Homo sapiens: one gene and its partners. The protein of the gene in region 2 interacts with the protein of the main gene of each other region in a biochemical or structural test. Each region holds a gene or a part of one and is shown on either strand. Other genes may lie near its edges. The genes, in order: PARD6G, PBK, SYNPO2, CDK1, PDZRN3, FRMPD2 and DLG2.

Region 1 (4,568 bases), on a different chromosome or scaffold from region 2:
TCCCTCTGAGAGCCGCTTGTCTTCAAGTCCCAGTTCACAGCCACCCATCCCGGGAGCCCCACCCCTGTTCCGCATGGTGCATTCCCTTCCACCAAAACCACAAACCTGTCTGCGTCACAAGGGCCAGGTGGAAGCATCTCGGCCATCCCCACAGGGCAGCAAGTGCTCTGGCCGTGGTGCACGGTGGACTGGATTGAGGCTCAAGCCCAGAACTGTAGGATACAGAGAAGGGCACAGCGGGCCGGGCCCCTCCTCGTAAGGGGCTTATAAATCACTTAGGTAGACCAGGGTTCCCTGCACCAATAAAAGCAAGTGTGTGGACCTCTGCTTCCCAGAAGTCATGTAGTTCTTCCCATCCCTCCTAAGTTCAACAAAAACCCTGGATGTTACATACAAAACAACAAATATAAGATGACGCAGGAGAGAAGTCGCACTAGCTGGGGCCTCAGGACCGGAGAAGCAACATGGCAGCAGCTCCTTGGGTTTTCTTTTAGCCTTGTCATCCCAGACTTGGAGCTGAAGGCACCAGCAACCTGGATGCACCAACAGGCATAGACCAAAAAGCCCCATCAAAAGTCTGCTCTGTCTGTACAAAGATCAGAAAGAGGCAGCCTAAAAGGACGGAACACGTGTGGACAATAACTACCCCACCTGCTGCACCCCACACACAGAGCCTGGACCCTCACCTCCTCAAGGCTAGAATGGGTGCCCAACAGCCCCTGGCTCTGGTGCCAGAGAGACTAAGCAGGGAGTGAGGACCTGGCCTTTGTATTTTGTCCATGGGCCCCACAGTCTTGAGTGGGCCTCTCCTCCCTCAAAACACTTAGGGGCCATCCTAACAGCCCCTCCTCCTGGCCAAGTCCCAACTACTGCAAATCCCTCCCCTGCACTCCAAACCCTCCAACCTGTGAGGGGCGTTGCCTCTGTGATGTGCTCTCCATGTGTCTAAAAGGCTCCAGCTTTTAACTTTCATGGTTGGGTGTTTCCACCGGGTCCACACTGCTCTTCACGTCACAACTGAATGTCATGCCCATAGTAAGAGGATGAAACTGGGGGGTCCTGGGCCTTCAAGGACTTGAGCAGAGGGGAGCCTTGTTTACCCACCTAACAATAATGTAAAATATAATCCTAGCCAACCTCAAATTAAACCTTTTGAAGATATGTAATGGGGGAACCTGCCCCCAATATTTCAACGTAGGTTCTATTTTCCATAAATGTCAGCCAGCTGAGCAAGAGAAAGAGTACAAAGAGAGGAATTTTACAGCTGGGCCACCAGGGATGACATCACCTATCGGTAGGTCCGTGATGCCCACCTGAGCCTCAAACCAGCAGGTTTTTTATTAAGGGTGTCAAAACGGGAGGGGGTGTAAAACAGGGAGTGGGTACAAAGATCACATGCTTCAAAAGGCAAAAAGCAGACGTACTAATAACGGTCTAACAAAGATCACATGCTTCTGAGGGAACAGGACAAAAGGAAAAAGCGGAACCACTGATAAGCATCCAACAAACACAAGGCAAAGGGCAAAAGCAGAACCACTGATAAGGGTCTATGTTCAGCAGTGCACATATTGTCTTGATAAACATCTTCAACAACAGAAAACAGGGTTCGAGAGCAGAGAACCGGTCTGACCACAAATTTACCAGGGCAGAGTTTCTCCCCACCCTAGTAAGCCTGAAGGTTCTGCAGGAGACCAGGGCGTATCTCAGTCCTTATCTCAATCACATAAGACAGACATTCCCAGAGTGGCCATTTATAGACCTCCCCTAGGAATGCATTCCTTTCCCAGGGTATTAATATTAATATTCCTTGCTAAGAAAAGAATTTAGTGATCTCTCTCCTACTTCCATGTCCATTTATAGGCTCTCTGCAAGAAGAAAAATATGGCTCTTTTTGCCTGACCCTGCAGACAGACCTTATGGTTGTCTTCCCTTGTTCCCTAAAAATCACTGTTATTCTGTTCTTTTTCAAGGTGCACTGATTTCATATTGTTCAAACACATGTTTTACAATTTGTACAGTTAACAAAATTATCACAGTGGTCCTGAGGTGACGTATATCCTCAGCTTACGAAGATAACAGGATTAAGAGATTAAAGACAGGCATAAGAAATTATAAAAGTATTATTTGGGAACTGATAAATGTCCATGAAATCTTCACAATTTATGTTCCTCTGCTGTGGCTCCAGCCAGTCCCTCCATTCAGGGTCCCTGACTTCCCGCAATGGATATGTCTTTGCCTCTAAAATTTTAGTAAAGGTTTGTTTTGAAAAAACATGGTGTTGAACTGTTAACCTCCAGGAAGTTGCCAGAAAACATAATTTATCATTTCCACTGGGTGCGCTGGCTCACACCTGTAATCCCAGCACTTTGGAAGGCCAAGGTGGGTGGATCACCTGAGGTCAGGAGTTCAAAACCAGCCTGACCAACATGGTGAAACCCTGTCTCTATTAAAAATACAAAAATTAGCTGGGCGTTGTGGCATCCACCTGTAATCCCAGCTAGTAGGGAGACTGAGGCAGCAGAATCGCTTCCAGACAGCGGAGGCTGCAGTGAGCTGAGATCGTGCCATTGCACTCCAGCCTGGGCAAGAAGAGCAAAACTCCATCTCAAAAAAAAAAATTATCATTTCCGCTTATTTCCTAACATAGCTACCACTTTGTCACCATTTGGACCTGTAAACAAATGTGACTGTTCCCTTGTATTTTTCCTTCTGAGATGAAGGCAGTCATGTCAGCGGCACACAGCCTCAGCTCATGGACACCGTATGGTCAGGTCGGCACCAACACAGCACACCACCCCAATCATGAGTGTGTTCCTCCTCTCTGCCGCACCCCAAGCAGAACAAAGGCCCAGATGCAGGGCTGCAAGTGTCTCTCTCAGCAGCCCCACTGCATTCTGCTAAGCAGGCGACACAGTCTGGGGCACGTGTGCCATGGCAGACACTGCTGGTGTGACCCTCGGTCATGGGGGCATCAGGACGCCTTGTCTCAGTGGAAAATCTCCACCTCCCTTAGAATTTAAAGGCGTCAAGTTCATTGAAAGCGATCAGTTACAGCCTCCTCCATGGTCAGATCTAGTTGCCCCAAACACAACAGCTCCGTGGCAGCTTTTTTACAGCAGCATTTTCAAGTTTCTGGTAAATGTCCTCTGTAGAGAGCGTCAGACAAGCAGGGGAGGTACGTGCCCCTTTCATCCTGTCCTGGCTCCTTACATCCTCAGAGCACGAGACAGTCCACAGGGTCCTCACTCCCCATGTCCACCTTCCCGGGGAACTTCAGGGGAGTGCATAGCCCTCCCTGCAGACCAGGAAGGTCTGGTCCTCCCCCGACCATAAGGGGGCTGTTCTCACAGAAGTCCCTTCAGGGCCCCTTCTCCACACCACAGCCACCTCTTTTGGGGCCCCACAACTGCAAACACTTGAGGATCCAACAAACCAGAGCCCCCTTTGATCTCAGTCGTGCTGGCCAGACCCTAACATCCCATGCTGACCCCTCTGGCCTTGGCCCTGTGCTCCAAGGGAGTTTCAGCGCATCTAAAGGTGCAGGGCTCCGTGTGTCACCGTATGGAATAATTACCACTTTTCAGGGCAAGACAATGGCCAATCAAAACAGTGACAGTTCACAATTACAAGTGACACCCATTGGGCCTCACAGGTCACATCCCTGCTGTGGGTCCTCTGTTGTGGTTCCTGCCTGAGAGCATCATGTTGCGTGTGGACGTGTGTGCAGGATAACACGTGGGCAGTGTTGTGTGTGGACCTGTGTGCCGGATAACACATGGGCAGTGTTGCGTGTGGACGTGTTGCAGGATAACACATGGGCAGTGTTGTGTGTGGACCCGTGTGCAGGATAACACATGGGCAGTGTTGCGTGTGGATGTGTGTGCAGGATAACACATGGGCAGTGCTGAGGACAGGGCACGGCTCTTCATGCAGCAGCTCACTCAGGGCAGCAAGCTTGGAGCAGGTACTCCTGGGGACAGGGACACAGGCTCAGGGATTCAGGGCCCCGGAATGGCCTGGACAGGGAAGGTCTTTTGTGTAACCCCCATGACAGGCAAGGCAGCAGCAACGCTCCACCATGTTTCCAGACAGACTTGGGGTCCTGGGAGGAGGCGCTGCAGAGGGTGGAGCTGGGGCCATGAGATGTACCCAGGCCTGTCCTCTCTTCCTCCCCCAGCGTCTCTGATGCTCTGAGCCACGTAGGGAGGACGACCATGGGAACATGGCCTAAGATGAACGCCCAGGGGATTTCTGAGCAGCAGGGAGTGTATCCCCTCATGGTGCAGCACCTCTCAGCAGCAGGCACACAGACCACCCTGTACAAAGGCAGGTTCTGAACCCCTGGGCCTGGGGTGCAGCTCAAGGACACTCAGGTGAGGTTGATGCCATGGGTTCATAAACTAATTCTGAATGACAGGAGGTTGATGAGCTAAGTAATGTCTACCACTGTCAAATGGCTGTGTAAGCTGAAAGATGAACACGTTCATAGGCAGGGGGCAAAAGAGCCAGTGGCTCCGTGGAGGAAACGGGCCGACACCCCACTTGGAGGAGGGCCAGCAAGTGCATGC
Region 2 (4,568 bases):
ATTTTTGAAACAGTAAAAAGATTGATATTTTTCCCAGTACATAAATGTTATTTTTGAAGTGATCAGAGGCAAATCTCACAAATAGAAAGCCTTTGCCTACAGAAATGCCTTCCCTGAGCATATGCCTGGTGTAGTAGCTTTAAGAATTGCTATTGCTAACTACAAAAGCTGTGAGTGAGTCCAGGTAAAGGAGCTGCCAACACATTTCCCACACGCTTAAAAATATATATATATTTTTAGTGAGAAAGCCAGATCAAATTTTTCATCTTGATGAAAAGTATCTATTGAAAATACTCTCATATGTAACCTTCAGCATAAACCCAGGGTTTATGGCTACAAAGGAACATTTTATCATCATAGAAAGTTTCACTGAACAGCACTGCTCTAGAAAGTCTTGCTCCGGCTCAGAAATGACACAAGTCATTTCTTCTGGTAGAACCTTTCAGACGACAGTTTGGAAATCTGCATTTAAAATAAGAAAAATATTTTAAAATGTTTATGCCCTTGCAGATTTAATGTGTTAGTATCTTTTATTAGGATTATTAACTGTTTTTGTTACTGCTTTAGTTTTCAAAGTTGCATAGGTTTTAACCCTGTTTTTTTTTTCTATAAACCTAGTTATATCTTGAAACTTTTGCGCAATGAAGTTTTGCAGGAAATAATATATCAGGTTATTATAAAAAAAATGCCTGTACTGCCTAATTACTCAATTACTTCTTTGGACTGTGTTCTTAAGAATGAAACTATAGGGTCAAAGGGCATAAACATTTTTAAAGGTTTTTCTTATTTTAAATACAGCTTTCCAAACTGTCACCTGAAAGGTTCTACCACAAGAAATGACTTGTGTCATTTCTGAGCTTGAGCATTTAACTATCACTGCAAGACTTTCTAGAGCAGTATTGTTCAATGAAACTTTCTATGATGATTAAATCTCCTAAATCTGCATTGTCCAATGTGGTAACCATTAACCACATGTAGCTTCTGAGCACTTGAATTGTGGCTAGGGTGGCTGAGAAAATAATTTCAATGTTTTAATATTAATGTAAATAGCAACATGCAGCTCATAACTACTGTATTGGACAGTACCACTCCAATGCTTTTTCACCCTCCCCATAATGGTGGCCATGTTCCATATAGTGGCTGTTCCATCAGTATAAGTCCTAAAGGGAGAATGACACAGAACAAGGTGCTAATGGCCATGCAGCTTGAGTAATAAGCCTTGGTTGTTGTAAGTCACTGAAGTTTTTGAGGTCTGTGTTACCACAGCAAAACCTATTCTAACCTCAGTAAAACAGCAGTTACAAGTTCTACTTAGTGTATGAGAGGACATGTTAACCTACATTGTTGCTCATACTAGCAATCTTTTTATTTACTAGCAATCTTGTTACTCCTTCAATAATATATTTACAAGTCAGGCACTATTCTAGAGTTGAGGATATTTCAGTGGACAAGATATACAAGGTTCCCTTCTTAGAGCTTACAAGCCTAATGGAGGAATGGAGAAACGTTTAACAGATAATTTACACAGTGTGATGAGTGTTGATAGCAGATTATCTCATTGTTATTTAGCTTTTAAAACATTAGTAAGAACATTACATATATATTTTCCTAATTGCCATTTTTTTCATTTCTCAACAGTCTCTTCATAATAGAGCTTTTATCTGTTTCTCATTGATTACTAATAACTCTTAATGCATTAGAAATATTAAATATCTTATACATTTATCTCAGTTTCTAATGTCTTAAGCTCCCTGCCCCTCTCCAACCCACTGTGATATAGAATTCTTTTTTTTTAAATGGAGGTACCCATGGCTTTTTAATGATGGTTTCTAGCTTTGGTGTCTTCTTTAAAGTCCTCTCCACAGCCAACATTAAAGAACTATTTATCTACAATTTTTTCTACTGTTACTTTTTCCCCCAATCTTCAATATATGGGGATTCAAGTGTAAGGATAGAAAACAGCTGTGTTTTTTTCTAAAATGTCCAGATAACATCATTTACTGACTAAACTACCTCTTTTCTCACTAATACAAAAATGTCACCTTTATCACACAACAAATTCCTCTATTTGGGAACTATTTCCTGACTCTCATGTTCTATTTTTCTGCCTATTTTGGCATGAGTATCATCGCTTTAATTACTGTAGCTTTATAAAACTTTTTATCTGCTCAGGAAGATTCCTCCTCCTTTCATCGAGTTTTCCCAGCCATGTTTGATTGAACATGTATCCTCAAAGAGGAACTTCAGATTAATTCTGACATGTTCTAGAATAGATCACATTAAGATTATGTAGAATTTATAGGCTATCAAATTCATTCATTTCTGCTTTCTGTTCTTAGGGCGTCATTTTTTTCAATTTCAGTTGAATATTCAACTTAACTTCATAAAAGTTAAATAATGAAAATGTTTCCTTTGAGTAGTTTTGAACATATCAAATAGGGTTTGACTTGTTATATTCTTATATTTTCTAAATATTTTATAAATGGAATTTGATTTCTCTTTTTAGCCAAAAATTATTCGGAAGTGTTTTAAATTCCTAAAAAGTTTGGAGTTTTTGTTTCCTATTTTATTACAAATTTCTAGATTTACAGCATTGATGTTAAGGAATATCACCTATTAGACTATTCATACTTTTTATAATTCGAAGTTTTTTTGTGTGATCTAAGAATATGGTCAATTTTAATAAATATTATGGTGCAGAGGTACTTGCCTTACTATTTACTCAGATCTTTAACATCCTTACATTTGTCTGTTTGCTCTATTAAGCATTGAGAAAAATACTTTAAAAACCCTCATTTTTATTATGTTTGACAATTTATCCTTTTACTTTCTAAAGTTCCCATTTTGTAAGTTATTTAGCATAAGGTTTCACAACAGTTCTATTTTTATTAATGATTACAGACATCATTTATTTATAAAGTCTGTCCATTCATTCTGACTCTTGCCTTCAACTCAACTTGTAAACTTTTACTTCAGCTAGAAATTCAGGCATTTATATGTTCTAAACAGCATTTATTAACCATTTGTTTAACTTCTGTTGATATAAAGAGACAAATTTAAGTATTATTTACTAAATAATATGTTGCAAGCAGAGGCTTTCTCTTGAGGCTGGCTCTTGTTTCTCACCAAGAACATATCTTAAATTCCCTGAGAAGCTATGCAATAGAGAAGAAAGGGCAAAGAGCCAAAGACCAGCCTTCATTAGCACCCCTCTTTTCTGCTTCATTCCAGTTTCTTCTACCAGTTTCCTAAATCTTGTCACTTTACTCATGCTAAATAAACCGCTTTACACAACCTTACTAAATTTTACTTTCTATTCCCAGATGCTTTACTGCTTAAAGATCCCAATCCAGTTAGAAATATTTCCCAAAGATAACTCCAGTTAAAATATATACTAATACTACTACTAATAATAATACAGTAATTTATACTGTACATGTGGCAAGGGAGAAGACTGCAGGCTGACTGGGAGAGAGAGAAAAAAAGGGGACTTTTTACCATATACTTTTTAAAAATAGTTTTTGATTTTTGATCCATGTGGACTTACGTATTTAAAAATGTAAACACTGTATTAAAAACAAAATTTTAAAACTTAAGAGTACAACTTACCAGTCATATTTTCATCCAGTGGTAGAGAGACTCCTACATCACAGATTTTAATTGTTTCAAAATCGCCTTTAATTACAACATTTGAAGACTTTATGTCTCCATGAAGCAGTTTCTTTTCTTGGTGCAGATACTAAAATAGTAAAAAATTTAACACATATGTGCAGAAACACAAACTAATAAAAAAATGTGATAACCTCCAAATATAACAACTTGAACTCCCTTCCTAAACTCTAGGTTTACATTTGTCCAGCGTTTCAAAATTTTTTTTTTTTTTTTTAAAACGGAGTCTCACTCTGTTGCCCAGGCTGGCATGCAGTGGCACGATCTCGGCTCACTGCAACCTCCGCCTCCTGGGTTCAAGTGATTTTCCTGCCTCAGCCTCCCAAGTAGCTGGGACTACAGGCGGGCACCACCACACCTGGCTAATTTTTGTATTTTTAGTAAAGACGAGGTTTCACCATGTTGACCAGGCTGGTCTGTCTCGAACTCCTGGCTTCAAGTGATCCGCCTGCCTCAGTCTCCCAAAGTGCTGGGATTACAGGTATGAGCCACTGTGCCCAGCATTTCAAAGTATTTGAAACAAGAGAAGGGAACATCCCATGTTATCTCAGTCTGCCATACTGACCAGAAGTCTAAAAGTTTATTTAGAAATAGATACTTCTGCTAACCTTTTATACTTATAAAATAAATAATTATAAGTTAACTATTTTTTTCCAAGACAGAGTCTTGCTCTTGTTGCCCAGGCTGGAGTGCAGTGGCGCGATCTTGGCTCACTGCAACATCTGCCTTCCAAGTTCAAGCGATTCTCCTGCCTCAGCCTCCCGAGTAGCTGGGATTACAGGTGCCGCCACCATGCCCGGCTCATTTTTGTATTTTTAGTAGAGATGGGGTTTCACTATGTTGGCCAGGCTGATCTCAAATTCCTGCCCTCGTGATCTGCCTGCCTTGGCCTCCCAAAG
Region 3 (4,568 bases), on a different chromosome or scaffold from region 2:
ACAAACTGTTCTGGCACAGAACCAGGACATTTTCTTCTGCATCCCCACAGGCAAATGATGTGAGTGTTCCCCATGGACCAGGCCAGTCCAGGCTAGGAGCAAGGGAGAGCTGGCTGGGGTCAACCTGGGGCCTCTCTGAGGGGGCAGATGGATCCTAGTAGCTACACACTGTAGGTAGACAGCTTCCTAAGGGAGCATATAGGATGAGTCCAAAGTCACTCCCTAGAACAGAGAAGAATTAGCATGAATCAAGGACTAGAGGTAAGATGTCCCCAGTGATGGGAATCTTTCAATATCCCATAAAAATGTCCCTCTCTGGGCCTGTCTGGCCCCAAGAGTAAGAGGCCAGAACATGATGTTGCCAAATCAAGTAAAAACTTTCTTCTCCTCTTTTATTCTACTCCTTTTTTTCCTCCAACCCCAGGGGGCCAGAAGGCAGAGTTAGCGACCTGAGAGAAGAAGTGGAAGTAGAGTGAAGAAGTCAACCACACTCCTTCCCTGAAGGAAGGCAGCCTTTCTGAAGCAGGCCCCAGCTGGGGAAGGAGAGGAGATTTAACTCTAATAAAGTTGAAATTGGAGTTTGTTATTTCAGGGGATGGCATCATCTATTTCAAAATAAAACTGGTTTGAGTAACTTAAGGTAACCATTGAACTCTTCCTAAAAGTAAGCAAAATGTCCCAGGATCTGCTAAGTTTTCTTCCAGTGGCAGCAGAAAACTTTTTTTTATTAAATAAAGTTTAAAAGGTAGTGGGAGACAGAAAGAAGCAATTTGATGGGTAAAGCTAATTTAACATCTTGGTTACAGTTAAGTGCTCTCATATAAAAATATTAAATTCCCTTGATGATGATATAACCCATGGTGGAAGTGACAACCCAGGACCTAATCCATGCTATGCTAGGATTCCAGCGTCAGACATTCAAACTCCAAAACAAAAGAAACACCTCTGTTACTTTCAGGTTCCTTTGGTCGTTTCTGGCTCAGGGTATATCACATGGCTTCATTCAGCCAGCCAAACAGAGAACAGCCTGAGCCTTGAAACTGTGATGGACAGAAGGAAACAGCACCAAAAAACACTGTGAAAATTGCTTTGGGGAAATACATTAAAATTAGAAGTATGGGTGCCAGTAGAGGCTAGAGGCTTGCAATATTTTGGACACAAACAGAAACTACATTGTACCTATGGAATGATTTATTTATATCCCAGTTGGATCTCTAACCTAAAATGGTTTATCATCTTATCCTCTATTACTAGCACTTGAAAGAATGTGAAGGCATGTTCGTCAGTCTGGGGAAATGTAGAAGAGCCATGGTCATTTTGCTCATTGAGCTGGTTGCTCTTCTTTCCTCACTGCTGTTACATTTGTCATATGCATGTTTGGCGTGAGATTTTTGCTTTCAGCTTCAATCCTAGGTTTTAATTTCCCTTCAGAAAGCCCTGGCTTACTCTTTCAATACCATACCTCAATATTTTAGTTTTCTCCCTGCATATTCATCTCTTTGTTAATAGGATATCACTGAACAATATTTTGAACTTTATAAATTCTGTCAAGTTTCAATTCTTCTGAATATTTTCAAACTCAGTGCATAAGAGAAACACCAAAAAATAATTCCTCTCTTTCATGTAATGTTTTGGATGTCTTATCACTGCAATGTATGCTTTCACATAGTACTTAATACTCCCAAGTATATTGATAATTATTTCTTTTTCCAGTTATTAGCCAGTAAATTAAACACCTGTATATATGTTCAGGGGCCTCACCGAGATTTCTGTAAAGTCTTAGCTCCCTTTATCTATTGCCATCCCCTCAGCCTTCTATCTTTTAAAATACCTAAATAACTGACTAAAGCAGTCCCTCAAGGTGCTACATCTAATTGATGCAGGATTTTTTTTAGCCTCTTTGCCAGACTTGCAACAGGGGTGCCCTGTTTACTCAGCTCACTGTGCTCAACCCCTTGAGGGAGGGAGCACATGAGTGAGTGAGTGTGGGATCTGGCTGGCCACTCCGGGCGCCAGCAGGAGCAGACTTCATGTGTGGCCCACAGCGGTGCCCAGGTGGGGGTGCTTGCGACCCCAAAGCCCCAGAGGGAGCGTTACAGTGCTCTCTTAGTTCTGCCGTCCACAGACGGTGGTTTGTTAGCAGCTCAGTTGGCCTCTTGCCTCATTGTGTGGGGTGGCTGCCCTTCATCCGTGAGGGCAAAGGGCCGGTGTGATGGCCTTTTTGGGTACCTGCACTCGGTGGGTCCCAAGCTCTTGTCCGGCGTCCAGGAAGAATGAGGTCACACAGACAACTGAAGGGCAGAGAATTTTACTAAGCTACGAAAATGGCTCTCAGTGGAGAGAGGAGCTAGACAGCGAAGAGGATGGGCAGGTTGTCTTCCCCTGAAGTCAGGTCATCTCTTCTGTAGTCTGTCCATCTCCCTCGAAGTCCAGCTGTCTCTCTGAAGTCTGGCCGTCTCCTCTAAGGTCCGGCCATCTCTCCCTCTACCGACTGAGTCTGGGGTCTTTATAATAGGCACACGGTGTGGGTGGGGTGGGCCGCAGGTAGTTTTGGAAAAAGCAACATTCCACTGGTAAAAAGACACTATTCACAAAGAACCAATCAGGAGAGAATGGGCAAACAGGAATAGAAGTTCTCACTTTGGGCTGTAAGTTTCAGACTATTTTGGCTTGAAGGTGGGGTTTCACCAGGGATCCACCTCTGTCTGCCTAGAATTTGTCTGCCTCCTGCCTCTATCATAATCAAAGACCACACAAAGCAAAATCATGGGACTCTGAAAACTCTCCCAGGGCCTCTGTAGACCACTGTTGTTCTAATTCTTCCACAGAAAGGACAAAAGTGATATACAGACACACACCACAACAGACAGCTACATTTCTCTTTATCACACTGAGTCTTACCACTTCTCACAGTTTAGAAAACTTCCTATTTTTTCCTGTCAAGACAGTTAAAGAGTCTCTTCTCTATCTTCTCTAAACTGATCTTGTTTCTTATTATTTATTTATTTATTTTTTTTTTTTGAGACAGAGTCTTGCTCTGTCACCCAGGCTGGAGTGCAGTGGTGTGATCTCAGCTCACTACAACTTCTGCCTCCTGGGTTCAAGTGATTCTTGTGCCTCAGCCTCCTGAGTAGCAGGGATTACAGGCCTATGCCATCACACCTTGGAGAATTCTTTTGTATTTTTAGTAGAGATGGGGTTTCACCATGTTGGCCAGGCTGGTCTTGAACTCCTGATCTCAAGTGATCCATCTGCCTCAGCCTCCCCAAGAGTTGGGATTACAGGCGTGAGCCACTGCACTGGCCCAAACTGGTCTTCTGTAATTGACTTAATTCAGCTACTGTGGGGCTAAAACTAGTACTGGATTGTGTGCTTATTGAGGGCAAGGACTTTATCATCTTTAAGTCTTCAGCTTATAGAAGAATACCTGGAAATATTAGGTGTACAATATGTTAATTTATGTTAAATGAGTCTATGAAATGAACACATACATAATGTGAAATAGAAACTAAGGCCTTAAAGGTGACTAAAAGTCAGGATTCCCCACACCTCACCCAAATATAGAGTAAGGAGAATTATGAGTGGTTCTGAATTAAGACAAGATTAGTGAAAGCAAGTTTTTGCTAAGATTCAACCATTGTAAGTAAAATTTAAATGATTAAAATGAGAGAATCAAGATTTATTATATTGGACCCCTTATTCTTCAGATAGAAACCAGGAATGAACCATCTACCTTCTTTGTGTACCTAATAATAAAAAAAAAACGAAACATTTGAATCTGAGATATTTTGCCTAAATCCAGGTATTGATATTCACTTTAAAGTTAAGAACTTGATTAAGAGAAAAGCTGTTGAAACTGTTTATGAAATTAGAGCACATTTTTAAGCATGGTAATGTTTTTTGTTAGGAAACAGGATGTTTTGATACTTTCAAAGTTGATACTCCTGTCCCCTAGGTGTACCCTTTCTGCGTTTTTGCCAAGAGCTTATCTCACACAGCCTCATGCATATTGGAATGTGTGAAGATGTAATGTGGATAGCCAGCCATCAGCATTCCTAGAAATGCAGAGGAGTAAAAGGAGAGAATGAGAACACAAGAGGTTTCATTAAATTATATTGCTGTAGCCAGGCACCGGGGCTCATGTCTGTAAGCCCAGCAACTTGGGAGGCTGAGGTGGGAGGATGGCTTGAGGCCAGGAGTCTAATACCACCAGCCTGGGCAACAGGGAGATCCTGTCTGTAAAAAAGATTTTTAAAAATTTAGCCAGGCATAGTGGTGTGCACCTGTAGTCCCAATTACTTGGGAGGCTGAGGCAGGAGGATTGCTTGAGCCCAGGAGTTTGAGGCTGCAGTGAGCCATGATCATGCTCTGCACTCCAGCCTGGGCAACAGAATGAGACCCCAACTCTATATAATAATAATTAATAATATTCCTGTGTTATTAGTCAAGCTGAATATTAAGTATACACAGAGGAATGTTGCAGGGATACAAACTCTCAAAGAAATAGGAATGTAATACACATGAAAGGAAGCAAAATGCAAATTAAACAAGAGGCAGGAGTAATTCCC
Region 4 (3,437 bases), on a different chromosome or scaffold from region 2:
AGGAGTTTTCCTAGCTACAGTTTTTACATTTTCATTATTTTTTACTTTATTTATTTACATCATTCCCATCCTTTGTTGTACTTTAATTCTTTATATTAAACTCTCCCCATTCAAATCACCACCTTGGTTTCTGTCTCCTGACTGAACCCTCCCTGATTATAGTCAGATTGATTCAAAGACAGGTTTTGTTCCTTAAGGTATATTATTTCTGATACATTTAGGAATTGCTAACTATAATTTATGTTTGATCTGTGTTATATTGCTGACTTGGCATTTAGTGTTTCTGAAGGAAAGGGAACATTGTATAATAAAGGATTATTGAAAGGCTGTCTTCTGTGGAGTTGTCTACCCTTGACCCAAAGACTGTCTCCAGATCAAAACTAGTAACAGTGCTCATCTGATTAGATGTCTTGGCTGCTTGTTAGTCTTTATCATTTTTTTACATGGCTATATAAATAAACTAAGATTATTTTGTTTTCTTTGTCTTAAACAAATGCTATTGACCTCATTAGCTTTGTTCTAACAGGCAATATTTTTACCATATGATAAATATACTAAAATGGTTGGTTAGTTCTAGATCACTAATCTGTTATTTGACTTATTCACGTTTTTTAAATAATTTAAAAATCATTTTTTATCGACGCATTATTATACATATTTATGGGGTACAGTGTGGTATTTGGATACATGTATGCAATGTGTATTGATTAAATTGGGGTAGTTAGCATATCCATTGCCCCAAGCATTTATTATTTCTTTTTGTTGGGAACATTCAAAATTCTTTGTTTGGGCTATTTGAAAATTTACAGTAAATTATTGGTAACTGTAGTCAGCTTACAGTGCTGTAGAACACTAGAGCTTATTTTTCCTTTTGAGCTGTAATTGTATCCATAAACCAACTTATCTCTGTCTTCCTCTACTAAGCCCTGAATAACCACTATTCCACTCTATGGCCATTAGATCAACTTTTTACGTTTTCAAATATGAGTGAAAACATGTGGTATTTATCCTTCTGTGCCTGGCTTATTTCATGGCTCATCCTTGTTGTCATAAATGACAGAATTTCATTCTTTTTTTATGGCTGAGTAGTATTCTAGTATTCCATTGCGTGCACGTATGTGTGTGTACACTACATTTTCTGTATGTGTGTATGTATACACCACATTATCTGTTGATGGAAACAGGTCGATTCTGTATCTTGACTATTGTGAATAGTGCTTCAATAAACATGGGAGTGCAGATATCTCTTTGACATAATTGATTTTATTTATTTTGGACATATACCCCCAGCAGTGGGATTGCAAAATTATATGGTAGTTCTAGTTTGTAGTTTTTTGAGCATCCTCTAAACAGTTTTTCATAATGGCTCTACTAATTTAAGAGCCCACCAACAGTGCGTAAAAAGTTGCCCTTTCTCTGCATCCTTATCAGCACTTATTTTTTGTCTTTTGATGATAATTACTCTAACTGGGTGTGATAGCTCATTGTGGTTTTGATTTGCATTTCCCTGATGAATAGTGATGTTGAGCACTTTTTCATATACTTGCTGGTCTTTGTATGTCTTTTGAGAAAGTTTTATTCAGATTGTTTGACCATTTTTAAAATTGGATTCTTACTATTTTTTTTATTCTGGATGTTAATTCTTTGTTGTATGAATGATTTGCAAATAATTTCTCCCATTCTGCAGATTGTTGCATTATTCTGTTATTCTGTTCATTCTGTTTCTTTTGCTGTGCAGAAGCTTTTTAGTTCGATATAATCCTGTTTGTCTATTTGTTATTGCTGAGACAGGGTCTTTCTCTGTCACCCATGCTGGAATGCAGTGGCGTGAACAGGGCTCACTGCAACCTCAACCTCCTGGGCTCCAGTGATCCTTCCACGTCAGCCTCCTGAGTAATTGGGCCCATACACAGGCATGCACCACCATGCTAGGCTGATTTTTAAATTTTTTAGAGACGGGGCTGTCAGCATATTTCCCAGACTGTTCTCGAACTCCTGGGCTCATGCAATCCTCCCGCTTTGGCCTCCCAAAGTGTTGGGATTATAGGCATGAGCTGCTGCACCTGGCCTCATTTGTCTATTTTTGATTTTGTTTCTTGAGCTTTTGAGGTCTTATCCATATGATTTTTGTCCAGATCAATATCAATAACAGTGTTTCCTCTGTTTTCTTCCAATAGTTTCATAGTTTAAGGTCTTATTTAATCCATTTTGAGTTGATTTTTGTGTATGGTTAGATATAGGGGTTTAGTTTCATTGTTCTGCATGTGGATTATCCAGTTTTTCCAGCACCATTTATTGAAGAGATTGGCTTTTCCCTAGTGAATGTTCTTGTCATCTTTCTCAAAAATGAGTTGACTGTAAATACATGGATTTATTTCTGGATTCTCTATTTTGTTCTGTTGGTCTCTGCGTCCTTTTTTATACTAATATCATGATGTTTCGGTTACTATAGCTTTGTAATACATTTTTGAAGTCAGGTGATACGATGCCTTCAGCTTTGTTGTTTTTGCTCAAGATTGGTTTAGCTATTGTGGGTCTTTTTTGGTTCTATATGAATTTTAGGATTTCTTTTTATTTCTGTGAAGAATGTCCTTGGTATTTTGATGGAGATTGCACTGAATTTGTAGATTGCATTGGGTGGTAATATGGTCATTTTTATATTAATTCTTCCAGTTCATGAACATGGGATGTCTTTTTTGTATCTTCCTAAATTTTTTTCTTCAATGTTTTATAGTTTTTAGTGTAGAGATTATACATCTCATTTGTTAAATTTATTCCTAGGTTTTTTGTACCTATTGTACATTAGATTGCTTTCTTGATGTTATTTTTCAGCTAGTTATTGGTGTATAGAAACTATTAATTTTTGTATGCTGATTTTGATTTTGTATACTGCAACTTTGTTAATCAGTTCTAAGAGTTTTTGGTGGAGTCTTTTAAGTTTTTCTATATATAAGATCATCTCTGCACACAGGGACAATTTGACTTCTTCCTTGGCAATTTGGATGCCCTTTATTTCTTTCTCATGTTTCTTATTCATGTTATAATGGTACTGTTAGTACCATCTTAGCAAGTAAGCAGTACCTGCACTTTGTTCAGTGTCACCCCAAATCTATTATCAATGGGTTTGGTTTTTCAGTGGGGGGAAGATAAGGCTGTATAACTGTCTTGATCTTTAGTGATTTGAAAAGCAAAAAAATATTTATTATGCTTTTATCTGTTTTGTCTTCTAATGAATAGAACTTAGAAATGAAATATTTATCTTCAATTTTGTGTACCTTTAATTGACTTAAACAATATTATTGGTGGCAGTCATACAACCTTTAAAGGACAGCCCTAATAAAAATATAAATGTTTAAGTGTAGGTAATTTTATGCACCACATTTATTCATTGTAAAAATTTGCTTTTTAATAGGTAGTAACACTCTGGTACAGATCTC
Region 5 (4,568 bases), on a different chromosome or scaffold from region 2:
AGAAATGCCGTAGGCATTGATCCTGTGTCCATAATCACTTTTTGTTTAGTAAGTTAACCGGCCCTACACAGTTGAATGCAAAGAAATCCAGTTCCTCATTTGAAGATAATATTTTTAAAGCATTTGACATCCCCTCAACTCGCATTGCCTGCTGGAGTCTCACTGGGAATGCCTTTCTTTGTCTAGGAAGTGGACCTCTACAGAATGAACAGCCAGGACAAGCTGGGCCTCACTGTGTGCTACCGGACGGACGATGAAGACGACATTGGGATTTATATCAGTGAGGTACAAAGGCTGATTTTGTTTTTCTAACTATCGTATCAAGACCAAAAGGGTTTTTTTTTTCATGTTCACCAACCCTAACCCACCTCATCAAGATCTCTTTGGAAAGACACAAATTATTCTGTCCCCCTCATCACACTCCATGGCGCTGCATCTTTCCACGGAGGTTAAGTTCTAATGCCAGTACTTATGGCAAAATTACCCTTGAGAAGCCTGCAAATCAGCCATAAAATGGAGCCGTTTACATGGTTTTGTGTGTTTAGCCCCAAGGGAAGAGCAGATTCACATTTCCCAACTCGTGTTCATTGAGTGGAATGGTGGATGGAATCACTTACACTTTTTAAAGCCTCTCTCTCTCTCTCTCTCACACACACACACACACACATTTTTTTTTCTCTTGGTGGAGTATATATAGTTGACTTCATATAAGTTAAATGTGACTTGTATGTACTTATCAAACTACATAGATGCACGCTGTTTTGATCTTCCTTGAGAAGATAATACAAATCAACTGATTTCAGTATGGAAACTTTACAGTGCACACCCATCCTTGCAAACACAGAAACCCAATTTTGTCAGGAAATAAAATTTGTCGCTACAGAATGATCTACTAGACTTAATAATTATCTCTTTGGTTGTATGTCATTCACCAAGCTTAAGTTAACCCATCCTTTCTGCATTTGGGGACATCCCTCCCCTTACCAGTCCCCCTTGTCCCAATTATATTTCAATTTTAAAGTTATTTTCCAAATTTTAATACAAGTATTTGGTATAAAATAAGGTATAGTTGCTAGTCCACATAATGAAGGGTATCCTTTAACCTGTTCTACATCATTGATTTGATTTTAATTACCATGCATGCAACAAAAGTCAGCTGTGCCTCCTCAGATCAGCAGAGCCTGCACACACTGCTGTGTAACAGGGTTGCTACACAGGGATCCAAGAACCAGCCCTAGAAAGGGCTTAGAAGCAGATCAGCTCATGTTTGCCTCTCCTTGCACGACACTAAGTCTTGTTTATTTCTGTGCAAAACAGAAACACAGGGGTGAGCATGACTGTGTTTTAGAAATGGTTTTGAAAGTGCTGTTGCTTATTTTCATGCATGTCTGCGTTTGCGCTGAGATGGTCCATGTGTGTTTCAGATTGACCCTAACAGCATTGCAGCCAAGGATGGGCGCATCCGAGAAGGAGACCGCATTATCCAGGTAAGTCCACTTCCAAACAATGGCCTCATGATGGGCCTATCACTAAAGAACAAACTGGTTCTAATGATAGGTCTAGGGTTGAAAATGCAGAAGCGGTTAAAGAACAGGGATCACAAACGCAGATGTGTAGTGAGGCCAGACAAGTTAAACTAATTGTGAGGCTATCTCTGAGTCATAAGACGCAAGAGGGAGTGGTGAGGACTGGGACAAACTAGATGGGGCATGTTCTCTCCAAAGAGGGCCTTGCAAAATTTGAGCCAGTTCTCCTTATTTTGTTTCATTCTGTTTGGATCAAAACAAACATCAGTGAGCCAAAGTCAGGCCAACAGTTTACAACTTGTGAACTAAAATAATTCTCGTTTTAGATTTCTCTGAAAGATTAACTTTGGACCAAGCATTTCAGAGGCTCGTCCATAAAAGGGGAACATTTTTGGCAAATTTAGCAGCATCGATTGAAAAGTCTTAGAAATTTTCTGACTCAACATCTAACCATCCTGGAATCGCTTCTAAGGGTCATTACTTGACCTCGAGCCCTGTTGCTCCGTCTAGTCCAAATGAGACCATTCATGTCTCTTTTGGCTACAACCTTCTTTAATCTCACAGAATTGAAATTCTTGGCTTCATTGTGTCCACAAGGCTTAGCTTTCTACCTCTTCTCATCCGTATCCTCTCATTCTTAATCCACTGTGTTTTTCTCATTGCATACCTCACCACAGGTCATTTTGATTTTCTTCTTCCACTGCCTACTCTGGGTTTCTCTAGCCTTCAGCCAGAACCTGTGCTGCTCAGGATCGCTTGCCCTAGGGAAGTGACCCAAACCTTCACACCTGAAGGGTCAGGGTCCTCAGCATACTGCCTCTTTTTTTTTTTTTTTTTTTTTTTTTTGATTGCTGGAGTTTTCCATTAACCTTTACTACTGAGAATGGAAGCACTCAGAGGTACTCCAAGGAATCCCCTAGGTTCCAGACACAATCCTCCCTGCCTCCACTGTGTCACAGCAAGCCCATCTTCCTTGGTAATTGAGGGCAATCACTCCAACCAATAGAGTCACCCCTTTTGCTGCCTGTTGGCTCACTAGTGTAAGGAGGCATATGGAAGCCTCCACTTCCAATTCAGTGGAACCATTGCTGTGTCCCCTGGAGGCGGCGTTCCACCAGGACTAAGACCTCCAGACCAGCAGGGCTCAAAGTCACCAGGACATGCAAGCAAAAATCCTGCAAGAGGGTTAATCAAGTGTGATAGTGAGAGTGTCACGCCCACTTGACCCTCCGCCTGGCCCAAAGAAGTTTAAGTGTCAAACTGGGGACACAAAACACCATGTATAATTCTATTCCATTTTCTTAACCTCAGTTTGCTGCTTTTTCTTCTATATTATCCAATAATGTCTACATATACTCCTGCCTGAATATTATGTCTAATTGCTTCCATGTTCCCTCTGCAGAGCATTATGATTTTTCTCAGTGCCGTCTTCTGGAGGTCCAGCCCCTTCTGTTCACACCCCACACATCACAGTCACCTCATGAACTATACTCATGGAGGCTCCCTTATAGACCAGAGAAACTGCATTGGTCTGAGCAAGACCTTTCCTTCCTAACATCAGTATTCTTTTCCAGCTACACGGAAGTTGTATGTTCTAACTGTGAGTGGGTGACAAATGCAGGTCTGAAATAAAATAGAATGATTTTGCACCATCTAATCATGCTATTTGTCTCCCCACTCTCCCCACCCCCCCTTTTTTTTTAAAAGATTAATGGGATAGAGGTGCAGAACCGTGAAGAGGCTGTGGCTCTTCTAACCAGTGAAGAAAATAAAAACTTTTCATTGCTGATTGCAAGGCCTGAACTCCAGGTAAATTGGCTTCCTACAGATGAAACTGGGTCTATATTTCTAAAATCAAAAGATCCCCAGGCCTGCAAAAGAGCACCTGAGTATTGGCTGCGAACTTGAAGGTGCTTTGTTCCCTGGAAATGTAATCAAACTTGCTGTGATTCAGAATTCACTTTATGAGTTAGCCATTTAAGGTTGGTTAGATGCCCACCCTGGCATCTATACTGCAGGCCCACGACGTTCATTAATGCAGGGATCATAGGGAAGGAAAAGGAAACAGAATTGAATGGAAAACACAACCGGGGTCACGTCAAGACATTTGACTTCCCAAGGCCTGACATATGTTCCAGCCTTGATCTGTGCAGGTTTCATTTACAATAGCAGAGTATGGGGAATTAAAACTTGCTCTTTCAAATTAAAAGAAACATTGAATGATAAATAATTAAAACTGATATGACCACCGAATAAGTGCTAGGCCCTCCGTGGAGCACTTTACACACAGGAGAGCCTTCCCAGGAGATGGAAGTTCCCAGAGATTCAAAAGTTACCCAGGAAAGGCCCAGAAGGAGGGTGATAAAGCAGGGAGGGGTTCAGGCCCAAGTAATCTGATTCAGAAACCTCTGTGTTGTAATAACTCCTTCCACAGGAGGAATCATGAACTCACCCAGGTGGCACTCTTGATCCACTTAGAATGGCTCCAGCAACACATCTAGGGCAATCCAGTAGTAGATCTCTTTAGGTATGTGTATTAGTCCGTTTTCATGCTGCTGATAAAGACATACTCGAGACTGGGTAATTTATAAAGAAAAAAGAGGTTTCATGGACTCACAGTTCCACATGGCTGGGGAGGCCTCACAATCATGGTGGAAGGCAAAAGGCACGTCTTACGTGGCAGCAGGGAAGAGAGATGAGAACCAAGCAAACGGGGTTTCCCCTTATAAAACTATCAGATCTCATGAGACTTATTCACTACCATGAGAACAGTATGGGGAAAACTGCCCCCATGATTCAATTATCTCCCACGAGGTCCCTCGCACAACACGTAGGACTTATGGGAGCTACAATTCAAGGTGAGATTTGGGTGGGGACAGCCAAACCATATCAGTATGAAACCCGATTGAAAAAGCCGAGAGACAGACAGTGGCATACGGGGCATCTGATTCTCCACAGATGGGAGCCTCATGAGCTCAAAGGGAACTTCAGCAATCATCTCACCCACAGTCACAGACTTTTTCTTAAAGGGCCAGATAGTAA
Region 6 (4,568 bases), on a different chromosome or scaffold from region 2:
CTGCCACCCTGTCCTCACTCATCCCACAACTGCGGGCTCCTGCTGAGGCTTCGACTGGGCAGAACCAAGCAGAACACAGCAAGGTGACTCAGTCCATGAGCACCAGCTGTGCAGGGCCCAGAGCAGAATGGAGAGGCTGGGGCATGGGTCTGGCGGGGCCTGAGAAGACAACACCACTGGGAATCCAAAGAGACGGCAGAGGACAGCAGAGCTGGGACTGAAGCACACAGCCCTCCATACACCTACTCCAGATCCCATCTTCTTCCTCCATGGGGTATGGTCAAGAGCAAAGCCACTGAGTTCCCAGCTTGAGGACCAATTCAAGGACAAGAATAGGAGGTGCCTGGTTGCCCACGCCTTGCCATTGGCAGCAATCAATTTCCTCATGGTGCTATTATCACAACAATTATAATTAGTGACTAAAGACTCCAGAGGCACCCACACTGAGCCTGTGCCCAGACACTGTCCTAGAACTCTGCCTTCTTCTATGCGTTTTTCTCAACAACCATGCCATGCAGGCATTTGCTTCTGTATGCAAATGAGGAAGCTGTGGCTCAAAGGGGCTAAGTAACTTCCATCCACCTGACATGGAAAACAGAGAACAGGAAGGGCCTAGGGGCCAGGCTGTTGGGCTTCACAGTCTGTTCTCTTTCATCCAGATCTAGAAAGTAAACCAAGGGATGATTACCTTTAACGGCAGAAAGGAAAGCTGATGTCTCAGCCTGGGCACTAAGCTCTGCACCCCAGCCATGTCTAGTTCTTCAGTATTTCTGTCCTGGTCTTGTGTGTGTGACAACAAACTTCCCTGGTACCCGAAGCTCAGGATGTCTGTAGAGGAGACCCCAGAATTGGCTGTGCTATTCTTTTCTTCATCTGGGTTATTTCCACCAACACCTATAAAAACAAGCCAAGAAAAAGTCAACAGCTTAAAAAGGCCGGTTTCTTGGTGGCATCTCTATGTGGGCACAGCGTTTTCCTCCAGTGACAGAGTGATCGTTTATAGCTGCTCGGGTACAATATGAATTTAGCTCCTCCTGAAAGATGTTACATTTAGATTAGAGAAAGGGAAGATTCTACATGGGATTTAGAAACCTAGATAGAGCTTACGTGACCCAACTATGAATGCGTAGGCTCAAAAGAAGTTCATAAGGCCAGCTATCCCTTATTAAGCTCTAGCCATGTGATGGGCACCTTAGATATACATATAGGAAGATATGGACATCTTCCCATCTTCTCAGCAAACCCACCAGGAAGGTGTAATCCCAGTTCAAACATGAGAAAACAGAGTCAAAGCTATTAAGTGTCCTGCCCCAAATGCTACAGCCAGCATGTGGGAACTGTCTTAAACCCAGCCTCTCCTGGACACCCCACTGAGCACATCTGCAGCCACCATGTGATCCAAAAACCAACGTATCAGGTCCTTTTGGGAGGCTTGGTAATAACCAAACTGCAGGCCCCTGTGAGTGAAAGCTAGGCCACTGATTCCTGCTCACCCTGTGTCTGACTCGTGACCTGGCATAGAACAAAGAAAAGAACGTGAGGTTGTGAATCAGTAGAAAAACCTTGGGCAAGGTGCTTAACATAACTGAACCTAAATTTTCCTGTATCTAAAGTAGAGATAATATCAATATCAATAATATTGTAGAGTTGGTGAGGCTTAGAGATTATACGTACAGAAAAGATTTTACATATGTTAAGAAAGATAAAAATATATATGTATATATGAAAGAATATATATTCCCTCATATATATATATATATATATGGCTCTCATACACACACACACACACACACACACAGACACGCACAGCTTAGTACATGGTAGAGCCTCAATAAATGTATCTACTGTTAACATGTTATTATTAGCTGCTCCACAAATATATGTGGGAGGAATGAATAACAGTTAGATTTTCTTTAGACCTGGATACAAGTAGATTTACTACTTTTGATACAGACTCATTAACACTCAGGGAAGTGCCCAAACTCACATGCTGAATGAATTCAATTTAAATAAATCTGATTTAATGAATTTGATTTGAAGTTATTCAAATCTAAAGGTATCCAGCAGGGAGTGGCAGGGCCACTGTTTCATAATGCTGTATTTCTGGCCCTTTCATTCACAGATTCTGTCATCATTGTCCTTCTGGCAGTGTCATAAGCATCGGCTCATTCTCTTCCACATCCTCCATGAGAGGTGAGGATGGGACTTACGATTGAAATGAAAAGTCAAACCATGCTGCAACTGGTGTCCTGCCTAGTAGACATATGAGCTGGGAGACCTTTTTTGGTAAAGGAAACTCAATTTATTGTAGACCATGACAGATGCTCATGATGGACATTTTATCTGTCTGATCCTGATCTCCAATCTAGCCCAGCTGCCTTAACAGCAGCCTAAAGAGATAGAAGAAAGTCATGGTAGTCAAGTCTCTGCCACGGAGACCCAGCCAGCATCACCAAGGAAACATCTTCCTCTGGCAGTGGCCCAGCTATGAGGAAACCCCACCATGATGAAGGCAGCATTGCCAAAAGGTGGCTGGGGTGCCACAGTGAAAGGACATTTTATTCCCAGCCATTGTGGGAAACTCATTGTCTGGAATTCTAATGTGAGGTTGTGGTTTGAGAATAGCAGACCTCGAGTACTGCTTTTTGACAACCTCCATCACAGCAGGCCATCCTTGGACTATGCTGAATTGTGATTTGGTCACCTGCATTGTGTTTCCTGACAACACATGGGATGGTTTGACTGCTCCTGTCAGTGGAGGATGTGGAAGAAAACACAGGGATTGCTGAACCACTGCAGAAAGGAGAGCAGTGGTGCTGGGAAATCCAACAGACAGCAAGCCAGAGACTGGCATTGGAGATGTACTGAGGCCAGTCCCTGAGAAGGCTTCAACCCCAGGATGAAGGGTGTGGGGCTGAGACCCCAGCATGGCCACCTTCCACCACCCATAGCTTCTGGACAGGGGAGCTGCATGGCACTGTGTACAGGTACAAGAGTGAGAGAGCATGCATGCAGAAGTGTTCAGAAGGCAAGGCAAATGCAGTGCCTGCATTTAGTACCTAGAAAATGCTGGCTGGTGTGACAGGAAGTTCTCCTGTATACAAGGGAAAACTGTACAACACCCCTCAAGTGTGAAGAAGCAATCATGAGCCTGAATTTGCAGGCGGTCTGCTGTTAGTTTACAGGATCACCCAACCAAAAAGCAGCATTGGTCTCAGGAAACTAGGGAGAAGGGATGTTAGCCTACTCCCATTACTTCCTCCAGGCTCCTCAAGCTTGGTCCCGATAAAAACAATAGTATTTTCCTTTAATATAGGCAGTTGTTGCTCTCTCATTCTTATCTAAAGGATGAAGAAAAGCATCATCAAAAAGTACTTTACTCTTTAGGTTGATCAGGAACATGCACATCAAGTAAGAAGAGCGAGCTTGCCACGAAAATTCAGCTTTAAGAAAAGGCCAGGTGCAGTGGCTCATGCCTGTAATCCCAGCACTTTGGGAGGCTGAGGCGGGCAGATCACTTGAGTTCAGGAGTTCCAGACCAGCCTGGCCAACATATTGAAACCCCGTCTCTACTAAAAAATACAAAAATTAGCCGGGTGTGGCAGCGCGTGCCTGTAATCCCAGCTACTCAGGAGGCTGAGGCAGGAGAATTGCTTGAACCCAGGAGGTGGAGCCTGCAGAAAGCCAAGATCGTGCCATTGCACTCCATCCTGGGTGAAAGAGTGAGACTCCATCTCAAAAAAAAAAAAGGAAAATCAAATACCGCATGTTCTCATTTACAAGTGGGAGCTAAATAATGAGAACCCATGATCACAAAGAGGGGAACAACACACACCAGAGCCTACTTGAGGGAGGAGGATGGGAGGAGAGAGAGGATCAGGAAAAATAACTATTGGGCACTATGCTGAGCACCTAGGTGATGAAATGGTCTGTATAGCAACCCCTGTGACACGAGTTTGCCTGTAATAACAAACCTACACATGTAGCCCTAAACCCAAAACAAAAGATTAACAAAGAACAGTGCTTGTCTCCTCCCCAGCTGATTGCTATACCTATACAAAATATAGAAATTTTGTATAGGATTCTATACAAAATATAGAAATCCTGGAGCCGACCCTATCAACAAGGACTTTGGGTGGCAATAAAAAGGTCCTCCCTGCCATGCAAGGAGAGTTGACAGAAAAAAAAAGACTGGTTGTATCCAGCCGTGTCTAACAAAATTAGAGTAGGTTACTCCCTTTCAGCAAGACAAGCATGGTAACGCCCATTCTGCCCCTGAAATTGCAAAGCTTATTAATTTGTGCCACTACACTGCTTCTTTGCAAGCCAACACCATGAGGAAAGCAATATAGAAGACCTACGTGGACTTCAAGGTCTAGTACCTCACAGTAATCATGTACTCCTGAAAACAGGGGAGCCTCTTAAGCTCCCAAGAGTGGGTTAAAACATACCTTTTGACTGAGAAATAATTAATTCTATGTTGTCAGGGGAATTCTGGATCATCCTAACAGCCATGTTGAATGTGAAGCCCTCCAGACTGATGTGATTCAGGGCTAGTATCTGCCCTC
Region 7 (4,568 bases), on a different chromosome or scaffold from region 2:
CCTGGATGTTCTTTTAGGATGAAACACAGCTCGTATCTTGGTTACTGACAGAAAGATTACTTAATATTACCTGATTCAAGATATTTACAAACTGCTAAGGCACTGACACTTTCTATATTCTGAATAAGGTAAAAAATAAAACATCTAACTTCACATATGGTAATCCAGGAAGAAAGTTCTTGGGTTTTTTTTTTTTTTTTTTTTTTTTTTGAGACAGAATTTCACCCTTGTTGCCCAGGCTGGAGTGCAGTAGCACGATCTCGGCTCACTGCGACCTCCACCTCCTGGGTTCAAGTGATTCTCCTGTCTCAGCCTCCCTAGTAGCTGGGATTACAGGTGCCTGCCACCACACCCAGCTAATTTTTTGTATTTTTAGTAGAGACGGGGGTTTCACTATGTTGGCCAGGCTGGTCTCGAACTCCTGACCTCAGGTGATCCACCCACCTCAGCCTCCCAAAGTGCTGGGATTAGAGGCATAAGCCCAGCTCGAAAGTTCTTGTTTTTAAACCTCCGGGAACCAGGTGTAAGGCAAATTTCACAAAGTCTGATTACTCAGTGTTCTATGAAAGTATATAGGAATACAGAACTCAGAACTCAGGCTCTCCAGAAGAAAACCTCTATTCCCCTTCATGTTTCCAAGGAAACATTTAAAAAGAAAAAAAAAGCAGTTTTGGTTGAGACTTGACACAGTGAACTGAAACATGAGGAAGTTTTAAGCATCTTGTTCAGGTGCTGCTGATAGGGACACTGATGAAAGCTCATGGAGCTGGGGACGGACGCCTCCAAGCTTCTTCTCAAGAGTAACTGCTTTGGACACTGACCATTTTGAGCCCTAAAATTTTGTTTTTCAAGTTTTCTGATGATATCAGGGAGATAGTTTAATGAGGTAGCAATGCCTCAAATCCTTTTCATGGTAGGAGATAGCTCAGGGGTATCTCCTGCCCATGGTTTTGGGTAGGGCTGGTGGGAACCTGGGAGCTGGCTGCAGCTGAACTCTCAGGAGAACCCAGGGTTTTACATCAAAATGGGTGAAGCAGAGGGATACTCCTTGTATATGAAACAGATATTAGGGATTCTCAACAGGAAGGTTTTAGGGCACAAGTACACCAGGCCCAGAACCCTCTCTGTGCCAAATGTCAGACAATTTATCCCCTTTCTCACACTACCAGGGTAAAAGTGAACTTACCTGTAAAATATTCTCCAAATTCTTGTTCTAGCTTAATTGCTCGATCATAGGTTTTCTTGGCTTGTTCCTCTGTTAGACGCTTATTCATCTCCCTGGGAAAATGAGGGTTTGTATTAGAACATAAAGGGAATATTCCAAATCCTAAAAAATTAAAATGTATGGCAAAAATAAATCCTACAGAAAACATAGTGTAATCTTAGCAACAGGTTTTTAGTCTTCATTCAGGACTCCTCTGTGCTGGAATAATTTCAGCAACAAGGACTCACGGCCAGAAAGCTCATTCTCTCAAAGGGCAGTCTCTTGGTCCCACATTGGATTGAAGCCAAATATGTCTCCTTATGATTTGTAGTCACTGGTCCCTGTTCTGCAGGGACCTAATATCCTCCATGGTAGGCCCTAGGATATTTAAGTAAAGTGCTTAAGTGTGTCTTGAGGCTTCTACTTCTTCAGAATAAACTGTCCTATTGCTTCATCTATCCCCTCATTGGATGTGATTTCTAAATCTGAACTTTCCTGACCACCCTTTCTTGGAGTTTGTTCTAGTGTATCTCAGACTTTCTGAAATGTGAGAGTAGAATGGTAGTTATCAGAGACTGGGAAGGGAAGGCAGGAGGGGAGATGAAGAGAAGCTGGTTAAGGGGTATAAAATGCAGTTATAGGAATATTTCAAAATAGCTAGAAGAGAAGAACTGTAATGTTCCCAAAACATTTCTGGTGATGGATATTCCAGTTACCCTGATTTGATCATTACACATTGTATACAGGTATTAAAATATGACATATACTCCAAAAATTTGTACAACTATTATATATAAATTTTTTTTAAAAGGCTCAAGGATAAATCAAGGTGGGAGAGAAATGAAAAATTCTTGAATTCTCTCTAAAACCTAATCTATTGATTCTTAACTACTGGCAGCTTTATCTTTCCGGGTCTTCCAGGTGTTAAAAAAAAAATGTCCTGCCAAATGCAATTTGGTTGGCTGATCAGGATGCATCACAGGTGCATGTAGAATTTCTGAAATCATTACCGTCTTGCATGCTGCTTAGGAAGCCAGAGATTTGGGTCTGGAACATCTGGCCTTAGTCAATTCCTTTCGAGAGCAAGTAACAGAGGCAAGAAGGGATGTGCTTAAGGCTGTGTATTTAACGAAGAGTAATCTGGGGTAAGAACTCAAGGTTTTGGTTTTTTAAACCAATTTTCAGTTAGACTTCCTATTATACCAAGACTTGATATCTTTCAAAAGAGGCTATTTGGAAAAAAAAAAAACAATATATTGACATTAGACATTAATGGCTGAAATACAAAGTAGTGAGAATTTCCTGAACTCTTGTTGCTAAACTCATCTTGTCCTGAGGGGTGTTATGTATAATTTTTCTTCCAAACAGTCTCAGCTGTACATGCTGTGAATGGATGTTACTCGTGGGTGGAGAAGATGCTGGGCTAAACCAAGGGACACTCTTCAGAGAAAGATAAATATTTGCTCCAGATGTCAAGAAATCATGTGGGCCAGGCACAGTGGTTCACGTCTGTAATCCCAACACCTTGGGAGGCTGAGGCAGGTGGATCACTTGTGCTCAGGAGTTCAAGACCAGCCTGGGCAACAGGGTGAAACCCTGTCTCCACAAAAAAAATACAAACATTAGCTGGGTATGGTGGCACATACCTTTAGTCCCAGCTACTTGGGAGGCTGAGGTGGGAACATGGCTTGAGCCCACGAGGTCATGACTGCAGTGAGCCATGATGGCACCACTACACTCCAGCTTGGGCTGGACAGAGCAAGACCCTGTCTCAAAGAAAGAAATCACATAGTTCTGGATCATCTTCGACCTGCCTTCCAAGAATTCTGTCTTCTCTGAATTCCCTTTTTACTGATTACAGCAATGACTTAGTTTAGGTTTTTATTCTCTGACCTGTGAATTTATTTTGTCTCCTTGACTGATCAGTAATTCTTTGAGGGCGAAGACCATGGCTTGTTTGTCAGCATGTGGCATGGAGACTGATTCAACATTTATTTGTTGAATGAATAGATGAGTAAATGAATGAATGAATGAACAAATGGGGAGCTAGATAAACATAATTATAAGATAGTTGAAGACAGAAGTAAACACAGAGCATCATGGGAGCAGGAAGGTAAAAGCAGATTGGAAGTGGCAGGGTGAAGGGAGATTGCCACATGGAAAGGGAACAGAAGTCAGATGGTGGCACAATATAAAAAGAACATCCCTTTCATACACATCTTTGATTTTATGCTCCTCTGAAGAGTCAGCTATGTATGTGCTAATAAGCTCTGTGATTTGATGTGGATGATGCACTTGAGAAATAATGTGTGTGATGATGTATCAATGTGTAAATGTGACAGCTGTCATGCTTTTGTTCCGGCTGACCTAGCATTCACTACTCTCTGGGGAATGGGCAATTCATGGCAGCTTTGCTCCTGGAGTAAAAGCCTTGGAAAAGAGTGAACTGTAAAGTAAACATCCAACCTTTAGTAGGTAGATTGCATTGGTCTGAATGTCACCATCACTGCACTTGAGACCCATGAATATGGCTGCAGCAAATTATGTCAGATTCACTGTCCTTATTGTGAAGTCCAGCCTTTAGTACATTTAACTTTCCTTGGTGATAAGTGGCTGTGACAGTGCCCTAAGGCATAACTAAAATAAGTCATCTCATAGTTGTGGAAGGCAGTAGACCTTCTCCTATGGAATGCCAGATGGGACTGTCTCCTAATATTGCACCGGACCAAATGTGCCACTGCTGTCGTTCCCTCAGGCCTCATTCCCCTGGGAAGCCATTTATCCCACTGAGTGTTTACAATATGAAGATTTATTTTTCTATTTCTGAAACAGGCCTTTAAGATGGCTGTTCCCAGGAAGTAAGGACTATTTTTCTTCTCATTAATGTTAGCATTACTTATATTTATGAGGCTCTTGACAGATTATAAATCAATTTTACATCATGAAATTTGTACTTGCTTAATTCACTTTGTGCAATGCCCGACATAGTATCCTATACAAGGAGAAATTTAATACATGCTATTGGGGATGATAATATTAAGAATCATTATTTTATCATTAGTACATATTTTTCCATGTGCCAGCCATGGGAAAAACTCTTTATATTATAATTTAATACCTAAATTCATGGGGCTGAAGGTACTGTCAGTGACCTCCCGATCTTACTTTTTTTATCCTGGTAAGAATCCTTGTCCATTTTTTATATATGGGACTATATTCTGCTTTCAAGGTACATCTCTGGCTATTTCCCCAGAGCTCAACTATGTATTTAACTTAATTCTCTCAGGCTGCCACTCCAGCTGCTGCAGTTTGCTTTGCTTCTTTGTCTTCAGAGGAGACACAGAACAGTTAATATCCTCTGTAA

What was found.
Region 1: the proteins of PBK (region 2) and PARD6G interact in a test that uses a peptide from one of them, tested with the Homo sapiens proteins (one large-scale study listed by IntAct).
Region 3: the proteins of PBK (region 2) and SYNPO2 interact in a test that uses a peptide from one of them, tested with the Homo sapiens proteins (one large-scale study listed by IntAct).
Region 4: the proteins of PBK (region 2) and CDK1 form a complex in vitro, tested with the Homo sapiens proteins (2 studies listed by BioGRID and IntAct, with this or other methods).
Region 5: the proteins of PBK (region 2) and PDZRN3 interact in a test that uses a peptide from one of them, tested with the Homo sapiens proteins (one large-scale study listed by IntAct).
Region 6: the proteins of PBK (region 2) and FRMPD2 interact in a test that uses a peptide from one of them, tested with the Homo sapiens proteins (one large-scale study listed by IntAct).
Region 7: the proteins of PBK (region 2) and DLG2 interact in a test that uses a peptide from one of them, tested with the Homo sapiens proteins (one large-scale study listed by IntAct).

What each region holds. Positions count from the first base shown.
Region 1 is NC_000018.10:80,163,472-80,168,039, forward strand, and holds part of PARD6G (partitioning defective 6 homolog gamma), read right to left. Parts: intron 1-4,568. UniProt on the Homo sapiens protein: Adapter protein involved in asymmetrical cell division and cell polarization processes. May play a role in the formation of epithelial tight junctions. The PARD6-PARD3 complex links GTP-bound Rho small GTPases to atypical protein kinase C proteins.
Region 2 is NC_000008.11:27,816,956-27,821,523, forward strand, and holds part of PBK (lymphokine-activated killer T-cell-originated protein kinase), read right to left. Parts: intron 3,740-4,568; coding exon 3,610-3,739; intron 2,706-3,609; exon of another isoform or gene 1-2,705. UniProt on the Homo sapiens protein: Phosphorylates MAP kinase p38. Seems to be active only in mitosis. May also play a role in the activation of lymphoid cells.
Region 3 is NC_000004.12:119,052,149-119,056,716, forward strand, and holds part of SYNPO2 (synaptopodin-2), read left to right. Parts: intron 1-4,568. UniProt on the Homo sapiens protein: Has an actin-binding and actin-bundling activity. Can induce the formation of F-actin networks in an isoform-specific manner.
Region 4 is NC_000010.11:60,788,478-60,791,914, forward strand, and holds part of CDK1 (cyclin-dependent kinase 1), read left to right. Parts: intron 1-3,412; coding exon 3,413-3,437. UniProt on the Homo sapiens protein: Plays a key role in the control of the eukaryotic cell cycle by modulating the centrosome cycle as well as mitotic onset; promotes G2-M transition via association with multiple interphase cyclins.
Region 5 is NC_000003.12:73,386,735-73,391,302, reverse strand, and holds part of PDZRN3 (E3 ubiquitin-protein ligase PDZRN3), read left to right. Parts: intron 1-186; coding exon 187-285; intron 286-1,424; coding exon 1,425-1,487; intron 1,488-3,233; coding exon 3,234-3,335; intron 3,336-4,568. UniProt on the Homo sapiens protein: E3 ubiquitin-protein ligase. Plays an important role in regulating the surface level of MUSK on myotubes. Mediates the ubiquitination of MUSK, promoting its endocytosis and lysosomal degradation. Might contribute to terminal myogenic differentiation.
Region 6 is NC_000010.11:48,180,115-48,184,682, forward strand, and holds part of FRMPD2 (FERM and PDZ domain-containing protein 2), read right to left. Parts: coding exon 4,452-4,568; intron 895-4,451; coding exon 689-894; intron 1-688.
Region 7 is NC_000011.10:83,460,816-83,465,383, forward strand, and holds part of DLG2 (disks large homolog 2), read right to left. Parts: intron 1,279-4,568; coding exon 1,187-1,278; intron 1-1,186. UniProt on the Homo sapiens protein: Required for perception of chronic pain through NMDA receptor signaling. Regulates surface expression of NMDA receptors in dorsal horn neurons of the spinal cord.